Regions from separate parts of the Homo sapiens genome. Here region 2 is linked to region 1. Evidence: fine-mapped expression QTL. A gene starts in region 1. The other region holds a variant in brackets. All regions are shown on one strand. Distances are from middle to middle.

The links. PIP is the estimated chance that this variant, and not a neighbour inherited with it, causes the effect.
Region 2: its variant is the best candidate, but not a certain one, in a credible set for the expression of RAB11FIP3 in whole blood (TOPMed, PIP 0.59).

Annotation. Positions count from the first base shown.
Region 1 is chr16:423,260-428,623 of GRCh38, reverse strand. RAB11FIP3 (RAB11 family interacting protein 3) reads right to left here and starts at 2,975. Exons shown (of 14, transcript NM_014700.4): 1 at 1,904-2,975. The coding sequence starts at 2,617.
Region 2 is chr16:499,837-505,200 of GRCh38, reverse strand. RAB11FIP3 (RAB11 family interacting protein 3) reads right to left here. Exons shown (of 14, transcript NM_014700.4): 7 at 2,104-2,197. Among named protein-coding and RNA genes, the nearest start is that of LINC00235, 25 kb to the left of the region's middle. The variant C/T (reference allele first, on the strand shown) is at 2,753.

The DNA.
Region 1 (5,364 bases):
TTTCTGGGTTTCCAGTTTCTTACCTGTAAAGTGGGGATGAATCCTGCTTACCTACTATCTCAGAGAACTGTGGTATGATCCAGTGGAAACATCCTGAGCCTCACAGAAGTTCTCTATCAAGAGTTGGGTTATGGTAACAAGGAGCAAATGTGGTACTCTCCTAACTTCTTTGCTGTACTGAAGCAAGAGTATGTTTGGGAGAAGAGACAGCGCAGTAGCCAACAGCAACCAAGGGAGCTCAAGGTGCTCTCCAGCCCAGGGGCAAGAAGGAAACGCAGCAAAACACCTGGACCAGCAACCACCATCCACGCTGACCATACAGGAAAGTATCAGTCACATATTTCACTGCCCATTAGTGTAGGTGGAAAACTACCCTGACAATATCCCAACCGGAGCTAAGCTTGCGAGCATTGCAGGCTGCCCCGCACGCACCTGTCTGCACATCTTCTTAATGTGAACTCAGCAAGGAACCCTGATTTATCAGGACCCTGTGTTTTTTGTTTTGTTGCTGTTTTTTTTTTTTGAGACGAAGTCTCGCTCTGTCGCCCAGGCTGGAGTGCAGTGGCGCGATCTCCGCTCACTGCAAGCTCCGCCTCCCGGGTTCACGCCATTCTCCTGCCTCAGCCTCCCGAGTAGCTAGGAGTACAGGTGCCCGCCACCACGCCCGACTAATTTTTTTGTATTTTTTAGTGGAGACGGGGTTTCACCATATTAGCCAGGATGGTCTCAATCTCCTGACCTCGTGATCCGCCCGCCTCGGCCTCCTAAAGTGCTGGGATTACAGGCATGAGCCACCGCGCCCGACCATCAAGGTTCTTAATGTTATGACTGACACCCTAAATAGCAGTGTGCCAATTTTACCTCTTTTCTTACAGACCTCTTGGCTTAAACATGCATATGTACTTGAACACCCACTTACCAGATGTCTGCATGTGTGAGAAGTCAAAATACAAAAAATTGACAGATGCACCTTAGGGATTTCCTGCTAAGTAAAATATTTAAAAGTGAGCACTGGTATTATTTGATGTCCACCGGGTTATTGGCAGAACACACACGGCCCTGCTGTTATCTCCACTTAAACTTTATTAAGTGCTGAGGTAGACAGGAACAACTGCATCTTGGGGCCCACCTTTCCCCCAGGAGCAGGTGCCCTGAGGACCGCGTGGACCCCTTCCACACTGTACTGTGCGTAGTGCCTGTCCACGCATTTCACCTCTCCTACGAGAGTGGACGTGGCCCTAACGGAGTTCTGCTAGACTTCTGCATTTGCCAACAAGCTCCGAGGCTCATTGCCTTCCTCCCCAAAGGCACCAAAGTAAAAATTCTTAATTCCAGGACTCTCTACAAGCATTGACTGTCTCCCAAATAAAAGATGAAATCTAAGTAGAAAAGATGTCAACCACACACAGTAAAGTAATTGTACTCAAAATAGGTGTCTATCAGTAGGATCTCAAGGCGTCTGGGCAGCCTGGCCTCTGCGGCTAGAACTTGGGTGAATTCAGCCGAGCAGTATCTGGGCCCTCGGGTGGGGGAATCGCGGGGAACTTCTTCATTCAGGGGCACGTCGATCAGGCACCCTGGGGGGGTGGCGATCAGGCCCCCTGGGGGGGTGTCCCCAGGCGAGGAGCTGACCTCGGTAAGATCCAGCTGACGAGGCGCTGGGGGGAGGGGAAGAAACTGACTCCCCAGAATAGAACCTCCTTTTAAGAAGGGAAGAGGGACTCCAGCGCAATTCAACCAGAAATCCAGGGCCGAAGTGGTGAATAAGCAGAAAAAGCAGGACCGTCAGGTCTTGACAGTGCCTTTCCCGACTCCAGGGGCAGCGTCGACCGGTCCCACATCAACCCCGCCGGCCAGCGCGCACCTGCCCAGTTCCCACGCCCCGGCCCGGGCCGCTCCGTACCTGCTCTGCCCCGTAGACCGTAGCAAACTGGATGAAGTCCTCGATGCGGACGAAACCGTCCCCATCCCCGTCCAGGGCATCGAACACGGCTCGGAGGCGGGGGCCGTCCTCCTGACTCCCCACGGGCTCGCTCGGAAGGGGGTGGGTCTGGCTGAGGTCCGAGGGCTGCGGCGGGGACCCGGGACCTTGCTCCAGCGCCAGCTCGCCCGCCGTGGGCGCGGGGAAGGGAGAGAAGACGTCGACCTCGCCCCGCGCTCGGTGGCTGCTGCTGGACCCCTGCAAGCGGAAAGGCGCGCTCTCCGGGCAGCTCGCGGGGCCACACTCCTCGGGCTCCTCAGTCCAGGAGAACAACGGGTCGAGTTCTGGAAGCGGCGCTTCGGAGCGCGGCCCTGGGCCCGGGGCGTCGGGGCTCGCAAGCTGCCCCCGCGGGCCGGAGCGCGGCGGCGGGGCGGACGGCCCGGGGTCTCGCGGGCCTCCCTCCAGCCCCGGGGCCGGCCCGGCGCTCCAACGCGCCCCGCCATCTGCAGCGGCCCCGGGCGCAGGCTCATCCAGGCCCGGGGACTGCGGGTCGGGGCCGCCGACGGGCGCTCCGAGGCGTAGCTCCGCAGGGCCCGGAGCCAGTTGTGCCGCCCCCGGCCCGTCCGGCCCGCCCGGCTCCGGGTCGGGCCCCGGCGGCTCCGAGCCCGGGGGCGAGGCCGGCGGGGCCGACGCCATGCTCCCGAGAGGCTAGTGGTGCGGAAGGGCGCGGGCGGCAGACAAAGGCGCTCAGGGCGCGGCGGCGGGCGCGGGCATCCCCTCGGCGGCGCGGGCGGGCGCGCGCGGGGCGCCCGGGCTGCTGGGGCTGGCGCTCGGGCCCTGCTCTGTCCTCGCCCATCTTCGCACCGCGCCTCAGCTGCCCTCGGCCCGGCGGCGCGGCGGGCGCAGGCCCATGGCGGCGGGGCGGCCTAGGGAGGGCGGCGAGGATCCGGGCGGCGGATGGCGGGGGACGGGGGCCGAGGAGGCCGGGGGACGGGGGCCGAGGAGGCCGGAGGCCGCGGAGCCTGTGAAGCAGGATGAGGAGACTAAGGAGGCTGAGGCGCCTGAGGTACCCGGAGAACTAACGCCGCCGCCGCCCAGGCCCCGCCCCCCGTCGGGCCTGACGTCAGCACGTCCCGGCGGGGTCCCAGCCCCTCGCCGGCTTGCTGTAGAGGCAGGCGCCGGGTGTGTCGCGGCAGTGCAGCGGCCGCGAAGGGGTGTTTTGCTGTATGTCATATTCCTCGTTTCGCCAGAGCGGGGGTCCCGAGCTTCGGGCGCGGGACGCGGGGGTGCTCCGAGGCTGCGAGTGGAGGCGTGACGTGACGTCCCTGGCAAGAGGCGCGCGGAGTCAGGCCTTACTTAGAACGTGTTCCCGCCGCACAGCTACCAGCGGGCGCGACCGCTACCCACGCATGGTGCGGTCGAGTAAACGGCACCGCCTGGCGAGCGAGAGACGCAAAGGGACATAGCCCCCTAGGAGCTGAGCTCTTCGGGGGTAAAGCGTTCTCACGTTGATGAGACCAGGAGGCGGCGCACGCCTGGCTCCGCGGCCCAGGGGTTGCAGGTGCCCCAGGGTTCGCGGGGCGCAGACGCCGCAGAGGGCGACGCCCTGCCCGGGTCCCGCGCGGACCCGGGGGACGCAGGGTCTGACACGGAGTGCGGAGGGGCCCCAGACACGCAGTCCATGTCCCTTGAAACCAGAGGCACGCGCGGCCACGCGCTAGGCCTTTCCCTTAAGCCTGTGACCAAGATCTCCGGGACTCCCAGCGTTGGGACGGGCGCGCTGGCCCACGCCCAAGCGGGAGGATCGCTTGCGCCCAGGAGATTGAGACCAGCCTGAGCACCAAAGCGAGACCTCGTCTCTACAAAAAATAAGACTCAAGAAGACACCCAGGGTGAATCGCCCGTCTGCAGCCAGCCTCCCGAGCACCGTGGCCGCGTCTGACAACTGACCTCTGTGTCTGGGTGTCCCTGTCCTCAGAGGGACACGGGACCTCAGAAAGGACCACAGCCCGGCGGCAGGCATGATGGTGGGAAAGCTAGTTAGGACAGGTGAGGCACTAAATTTAGCCTGTCATAATTTGTATCAGGGAAATGATGAACTTGTATTTTTACACACCATGGGCACCAACACAAGATATGGTTTCGTAAGCAGCTTTGGCAAGAACCAAAGGAACGGAACCTCTGCTTCCAAGTGTACGGTCAGGAGCAGCGTGTTAATTAAGTGAGTCATCTTCCGTGGCAGAATCCCAGGGTACATGGGACCAGACTTCGCGAGGCTGGCATTAGGAAAAGGAATGTGAGGGATCCTCCTCCCCAAACCGTATTCTCATTTTCTTGTAAGAGCTGTACGTGTTCATGAGGAAGATACTGCATTCAAAGAACGAAATCACCAGCAGCTTTGGCAAGAATTCAAATTTGGGCTGATGCCTTCGGCCGGATAAAATTTTCAGAAGCAGTGATAGTGATGTGTCAACCTTTCTAAATAGGGGTGTTAGTGTGGGCGAGGCAGAGACAGCAGGCTCCCTCTGCTTTTATGTGCCGGCGCTGCCAGAGGCAGAAGGCTGGCTTTCTGAGAGCAGGGGCCCGCACGCTCTGTCTGTGCTAGGGCTGGAAAACGTCCATTGCGTGCCCGGCTGGTGTCCTCCATGGAACCACAGCCTGGAAGCCTGCACCTCCCTGCCTGGACCAGTTAGAGGCTGTTCATGAAAGACTAAAGGGACAAGTTCCCGTCTATCCGTCTGCTGTTCAGAGCTACTATCTGTGTCCCCTTTGTAGGCTGTGGGCTGTAGCAGTTCCTTCTTTTCTTTTCTTTTCTTTTTTTTCCCCGAGACAGGGTTTTGCTCTGTTGCCCAGGCTGCAGTGCAGTGGTGCGACCATAGCTCACGGCAGCCTCAACCTCCTAGGCTCAAGAGATCCTCCCACCTTAGGCCAGGTGTGGTAGCTCATGCCTGTAATCCCAGGACTGTGGGAGGCTGAGGCGGGCGGATCACGAGGTCAGAAAATGGAGACCATCCTGGCTAACACGGTGAAACCCCGTCTCTACTAAAAATACAAAAAAACAAAAATTAGCCAGGTGTGGTGGCAGGCACCTGTAGTCCCAGCTATTTGGGAGGCTGAGGCAGGAGAAAGGCGTGAACCCGGGAGGCAGAGCTTGCAGCGAGCCAAGATTGCACCATTGCACTCCAGCCTGGATGATAGAGCAAGACTCCGTCTCCAAAATAAAAAATAAAAATAGAAGAGAGATCCTCCCACCTCAGCCTCTCCAGTAGCTGAGACCACAGATCTGCAGCACCTTATTATCTTTTTTTTTTTTTTGATATGGAGTCTCACTCTGTCGCCCAGGCTGGAGTGCAATGGCGCGATCTCTGGTCACTGCAACCTCCGCCTCCCGGGTTCAAGTGATTCCCCTACCTCAGCCTCCTGAGTAGCTGGGATTACAGGCG
Region 2 (5,364 bases), 77 kb before region 1:
GCTCAGCCAGATGCAGCTCACAGAGGCAGCCCAGGTGCCCATGGATGCAAGGGACAGACAGATCCATGTCTCGGTCCCTCCCTCAGAGAGTTCACACCAAGATGAGAATCAGACACCTGCGGAGGTAGGAGAAGGAGTGAAGGGAGCAGAGGAGGACTTGGCCTGGGTCAGCAGACTTGAGATGCTAGAGAAGTTGTAGGGAGGAGGTGGTGGGGATGCAAGAGGAGGTGAAGTACAGGAGGAGGTGAGGAGGTACAGGAGGAGGTGAGAGAGTACAGGAGGAGATGGGGGTATAGGAGGAGGTGGGGGAGCAGGAGGAGGTGAGGGGGTACAGGAGGTGAGGGGTGCAGGAGGAGGTAAGGGGGTACAGGAGATGAGGGGGTACAGGAGGTGAGGGGGGTACAGGAGGAGATGGGGGTGCAGGAGGAGGTGAGGAGGGTGCAGGAAGAGGTGAGGGGGTATAGGAGGAGGTGAGGGGGTATAGGAGGAGGTGAGGCGGTACAGGAGGAGGTGAGGGGGTACAGGAGGTAAGGGGGGTGCAGGAGGAGGTGAGGGGGTACAGGAGGAAGTGAAGGGTACAGGAAGAGGTGAGGGGGGTACAGGAGGAGGTGAGGGGGTACAGGAGGTGAGGGGTGCACAAGGAGGTGAGGGGGTACAGGAGGAGATGGGAGTGCAGGAGGAGGTGAGGGGGTACAGGAAGAGGTGAGGGGGGTACAGGAGGAGGTGAGGGGGTACAGGAGGTGAGGGGTGCACAAGGAGGTGAGGGGGTACAGGAGGAGATGGGAGTGCAGGAAGAGGTGAGGGGGGTACAGGAGGAGGTGAGGGGGTACAGGAGGTGAGGGGTGCACAAGGAGGTAAGGGGGTACAGGAGGAGATGGGAGTGCAGGAGGAGGTGAGGGGGTACAGGAGGAGGTGAGGGGGGTACAGGAGGAGGTGAGGGGGTACAGGAGGAGGTGAGGGGGTACAGGAGGAGGTGAGGGGGTACAGGAGGTGAGGGGGTGCACAAGGAGGTGAGGGGGTACAGGAGGAGATGGGAGTGCAAGAGGAGGTGAGGGGGTACAGGAGGAGGTGGGGGGGTACAGGAGGAGGTGAGGGGGTACAGGAGGTGAGGGGGTACACAAGGAGGTGAGGGGGTACAGGAGGAGGTGAGGGGGTACAGGAGGTAGTGAGGGGGTACAGGAGGTAGTGAGGGGGTACAGGAGGTGGTGAGGGGGTACAGGAGGTGGTGAGGGGGTACAGGAGGAGATGAGGGGTACAGGAGGAATTGAGGGGGTACAGGAGTAAGTGAAGGGGTCACAGAAGGTGAGGGGGTGCAGAAGGTGAGACGGAGTCTCCCTCTGTCGCCCAGGCTGGAGTGCAGTCGTGCAATCTCGGCTCACTGCAACCTCCACCTCCCAGGTTCAAGTGATTCTCCTGCCTCAGCCTCCCAAATAGCTGGGATTACAGTTGCCCGCCACCATGCGTGGCTAACTTTTGTATTTTTAGTAGAGACGGGTTTTCACTATGTTGGCCAGGCTGATCTCAAACTCCTGACCTCAAGTGATCTGCCCGCCTAGGCCTCCTAATGTGCTGGGATTCCAGGCGTGAGCCACCACATCTGGCTGAAAAGCGGGTCTTGACCACGGCAAGGCTGCCTTGCCCTGGCTGCTGTCACCCATTCCATTCAAGGCCCCAGGAGAAGCCCGTTCCTCAGGCTGTTGGCTCTGCAGTAACTGCAGGGCCAGCCCTTTTCTCCCAAATCATGGGTGCCCCAGGTCGCGTCTCCATGGGCCTGGTGGACTGAATGTCTGGGTGTCCCCCAGCCCGACTCAGACACAGTGGGGGTGGGATACCCGAGGGTGCTCACTCACTGCCCAGTCCACTCCTCCCAGCTGGCCCTTCGTGCACAACAGGAAGACTCCTTTTTCTCACATGGCCACGAGACCCCTTGGGGAAACCTGCCAAAGAGCATCGGGGCTGGATGGACAGTCTGGGGAGCCCTGGAGGACATGGGGTCACCTCCGGCTGTGCTGTCCCCACCTCCCGGGGTGTCTGCAGCGGCCCTTAGGCGTGGCTGTGTTCTAAATCCCCTACTTGCCACCTACCCAGCCCTCCAGGGCCTACCTTGTCAGCAATGTCCTCCTCTGGGCCCTCCATGAGCTCGGGGGAAGGGTCCTCCAGGGCCTCCATGGTCAGGGCCCCTGACTGGTGCAGGTACCTACAGAAAAGGCACAACAACAGAGGGAAGAAAGGGAAAAACCACAGGACATGCTCCGTCAGCACAAGCACTCCCAAGTCAATCTGAAAAGCAGGCAGCAGCATTGCAGGGGACAGGTCCTCCCCTGATCTGGGTGGTGGTCTTCTCCCACTTAAAGCACTATATACAGGGGGAGGTCCCAGGCTGGACATCTTTACCAGGGGCTGGGAGAAAGCAGGCCGTGCTCTGTGGTCTCAGAGTCTTCCTGGCGCTCTTTGGAACCTGACAGAACATGACCTCAGTCCCAGCCAGCGAGTGGCAGAGAGGACTTTGTACTTGGCTGCAATAAAACATGCCCTTCTTCGCAGAGACACGAACAATCTCGTCTCTACCAGAGGCCTGTGAGACATCAGCTCAGGACCTTGACCTGCAGACACCTCCCCTGTGCACATTCTTGATCTCAGACTTTCACAGGTGCTTTCTGTGGCAGGAAGAGTGAGGGTCCCAGGAAAGGTGTGGATCCCAGAAGTCTCACTCAGTGTCACCCTCACGGACACACTGGGAAACTGGTCCGAC[C/T]GAGTCCAGGAAGACAGCAGACACACGTGTCCTCTGTGGCACCAGCTCCTGTGGACACGCCCCCAGCACCGCAGGCCATGCCAGTTACTACCCGGGCCAGGCTCGGGGACACAGCCTCATGGTCCTGAGTAGACGCAAAGGCCCATAGGCTGCGGCCTTGGGGCAGGAGCTTCTCCAGGGAGTGTGAACTTAGGCGCGCAGTAAGCGCGTGCTTGTGGTCACCACGTGGTCAGATTCGCTGTGGTGAATCTGTACCAACCCAAACTTGCCGGGAGTACAGAAAACTCTCAGAGCACTCGCACAGAAGAGCCAACAGCAAAGGTGCGTGTTCAGTTCTTTATACATCCTGGGAACCTCAGTACCAAGCCAGGCTCCAGGCTGACAGCCTGATGCTCAGAACTGCGTGACCGTTAAAAAGCACTGGCCCTCTCCGAGCTTCCTTGCCTATGAAATGGGGGGACCCTCTCCCAGCCTCCTTGCCTATGAAATGGGGGGACCCTCTCCCAGCCTCCTTGCCTATGAAATGGGGGGACACTCTCCCAGACTCCTTGCCTATAAAATGGGGGGACCATCTCCCAGCTTCCTTGCCTATGAAATGGGGGATCCTCTCCGAACTTCCTTGTCTGTGAAATGGGGGGACCCTCTCTGAACTTCCTTGCCTGTGAAATGGGGGGACCCTCTCCCAGCTTCCTTGCCTATGAAATGGGGGACCTTCTCCGAACTTGTCTGTGAAATGGGGGGACCCTCTCCCAGCTTCCCTGCCTATGAAATGGGGGGAGCCTCTCTGAACTTGTCTGTGAAATGGGGGGACCCTCTCCCAGCTTCCTTGCCTGTGAAATGGGGGGACCCTCTCCCAGCTTCCTTGCCTATGAAATGGGGGACCCTCTCCCAGCTTCCTTGCCTGTGAAATGGGGGACCCTCTCCGAGCTTCCTTGCCTATGAAATGGGGGGACCCTCTCCCAGCTTCCTTGCCTATGAAATGGGGGGATCCTCTCCGAGCTTCCTTGCCTATGAAATGGGGGGACCCTCTCCCAGCTTCCTTGCCTATGAAATGGGAGACCCTCTCCGAGCTTCCTTGCCTATGAAATGGGGGGACCCTCTCCGAGTTTCCTTGCCTATGAAATGGGGGGACCCTCTCCCAGCTTCCTTGCCTATGAAATGGGGGTCTAGAGGCAACTGAGGTTTAACCAAGGTCATGCATACAAACAGCTTGGCTAGGGACGTAGCAGAGTAAGAATTCCATAAAATGTTAATATTTTTCCACTGAAAATGTCTACCAAGTGTATGAAGTTCGATTTGCTTCTCAGTACGGACTGGGCTTGAACATTTCCATCTTTTTCCCCATAAACGCTCTGAGGAGACAAGCCCTGTGAACGTGCACCAGCTGGAACACACCGGTGCCCTTCTGGGGCTCTGGGGATTTCATCAGATTCTCAAAAGCTGCTGCTGATACAGATCATGTTCTTGGCCAGTCGCTGCTCTTAAACGCCCATGACCTTGCCCCCAAACATGAGCCACTCCAGGCATGAAGCTGCAACCCAGAGCCCATCCTGAGAGGCCACGACCTGTCAGCACTTCTGAGCTGTCCTAGAGGCGTAGGCACTTCTGGGGCTGACTCGGGGACACAGCCATCCCCAGGCACCCAGCGTGCAGCCACCACACGTGGCCACCAACGTGAGGCAGAGGGTCCTCAGCATGGGTCATGCGGCTGCTTATTTATTTACTTATTTAATTTTTTTTTTTTTTTTTTTTTTTTTTTTTGCGACAGAGTCTTGCACTGTCACCTGGGCTGGAGTGCAGTGGTGCAATCTCAGCTCACTGCAACCTCTGCCTTCCGGGTTCAAGCCATTCTCCTGCCTCAGCCTCCCAGGTAGCTGGGATTACAGGCACCTGCCACCATGCCCAGCTAACTTTTTGTATTGTTTTTTTTAGTAGAGATGGGGTTTCACTATGTTGGCCAGGCTGGTCTCAAACTCCTGACCTCGTGATCTGTGCGCCTCGGCCCCCCAAAGTGCTGGGAGTACAGGCGTGAACCACCGCGTCCGGCTGGGGCTGCTTATTTAAATCCCCTAGAAAGAGGGATTCTCCAGCTACACCACACCCTCACTTGGAAGGACCCTCCTCCCAGAGAGGGAGCTGTGGAAAAAGCCTGACCTGCCCCACAGGGCAGTAGGTCGAGCCTGGCTGGTGAGCAAGGAGGTACGGGGATCCCTGAGGCCTCCCACCCAGGGCCCAGGGAGCCTGCCTGCTGTGAGCACTTCCTCCAGTCCTGATGGACTCGGCTCTGCCCGGAGCCCCCGGTCTCTGCACACACAGCTGACTGGAGAAAGCCACTTCCATCTCATGGACAGGGACAGAACAAGGCTGAGGGAGGTGAGCAATGCAGCCAGGCCCGGGGGCTACAATGGCTGCTGGCAAAACCCACCATCTCAGCAATAGTTCAGCGCGAAGGGCTGAGAACTGTGAGAAGCGAATCGCGACGTTTATTTTGCTCTTCCTTAGCCTCTTGTGGCAGATTTGGGGCAAAACAACAGATTAAATCTTGTGTACATATATTTACATGTGGATAGACACACTGCAGAAGAGGTCTCTGTTTTGTAAACTCTAACGAC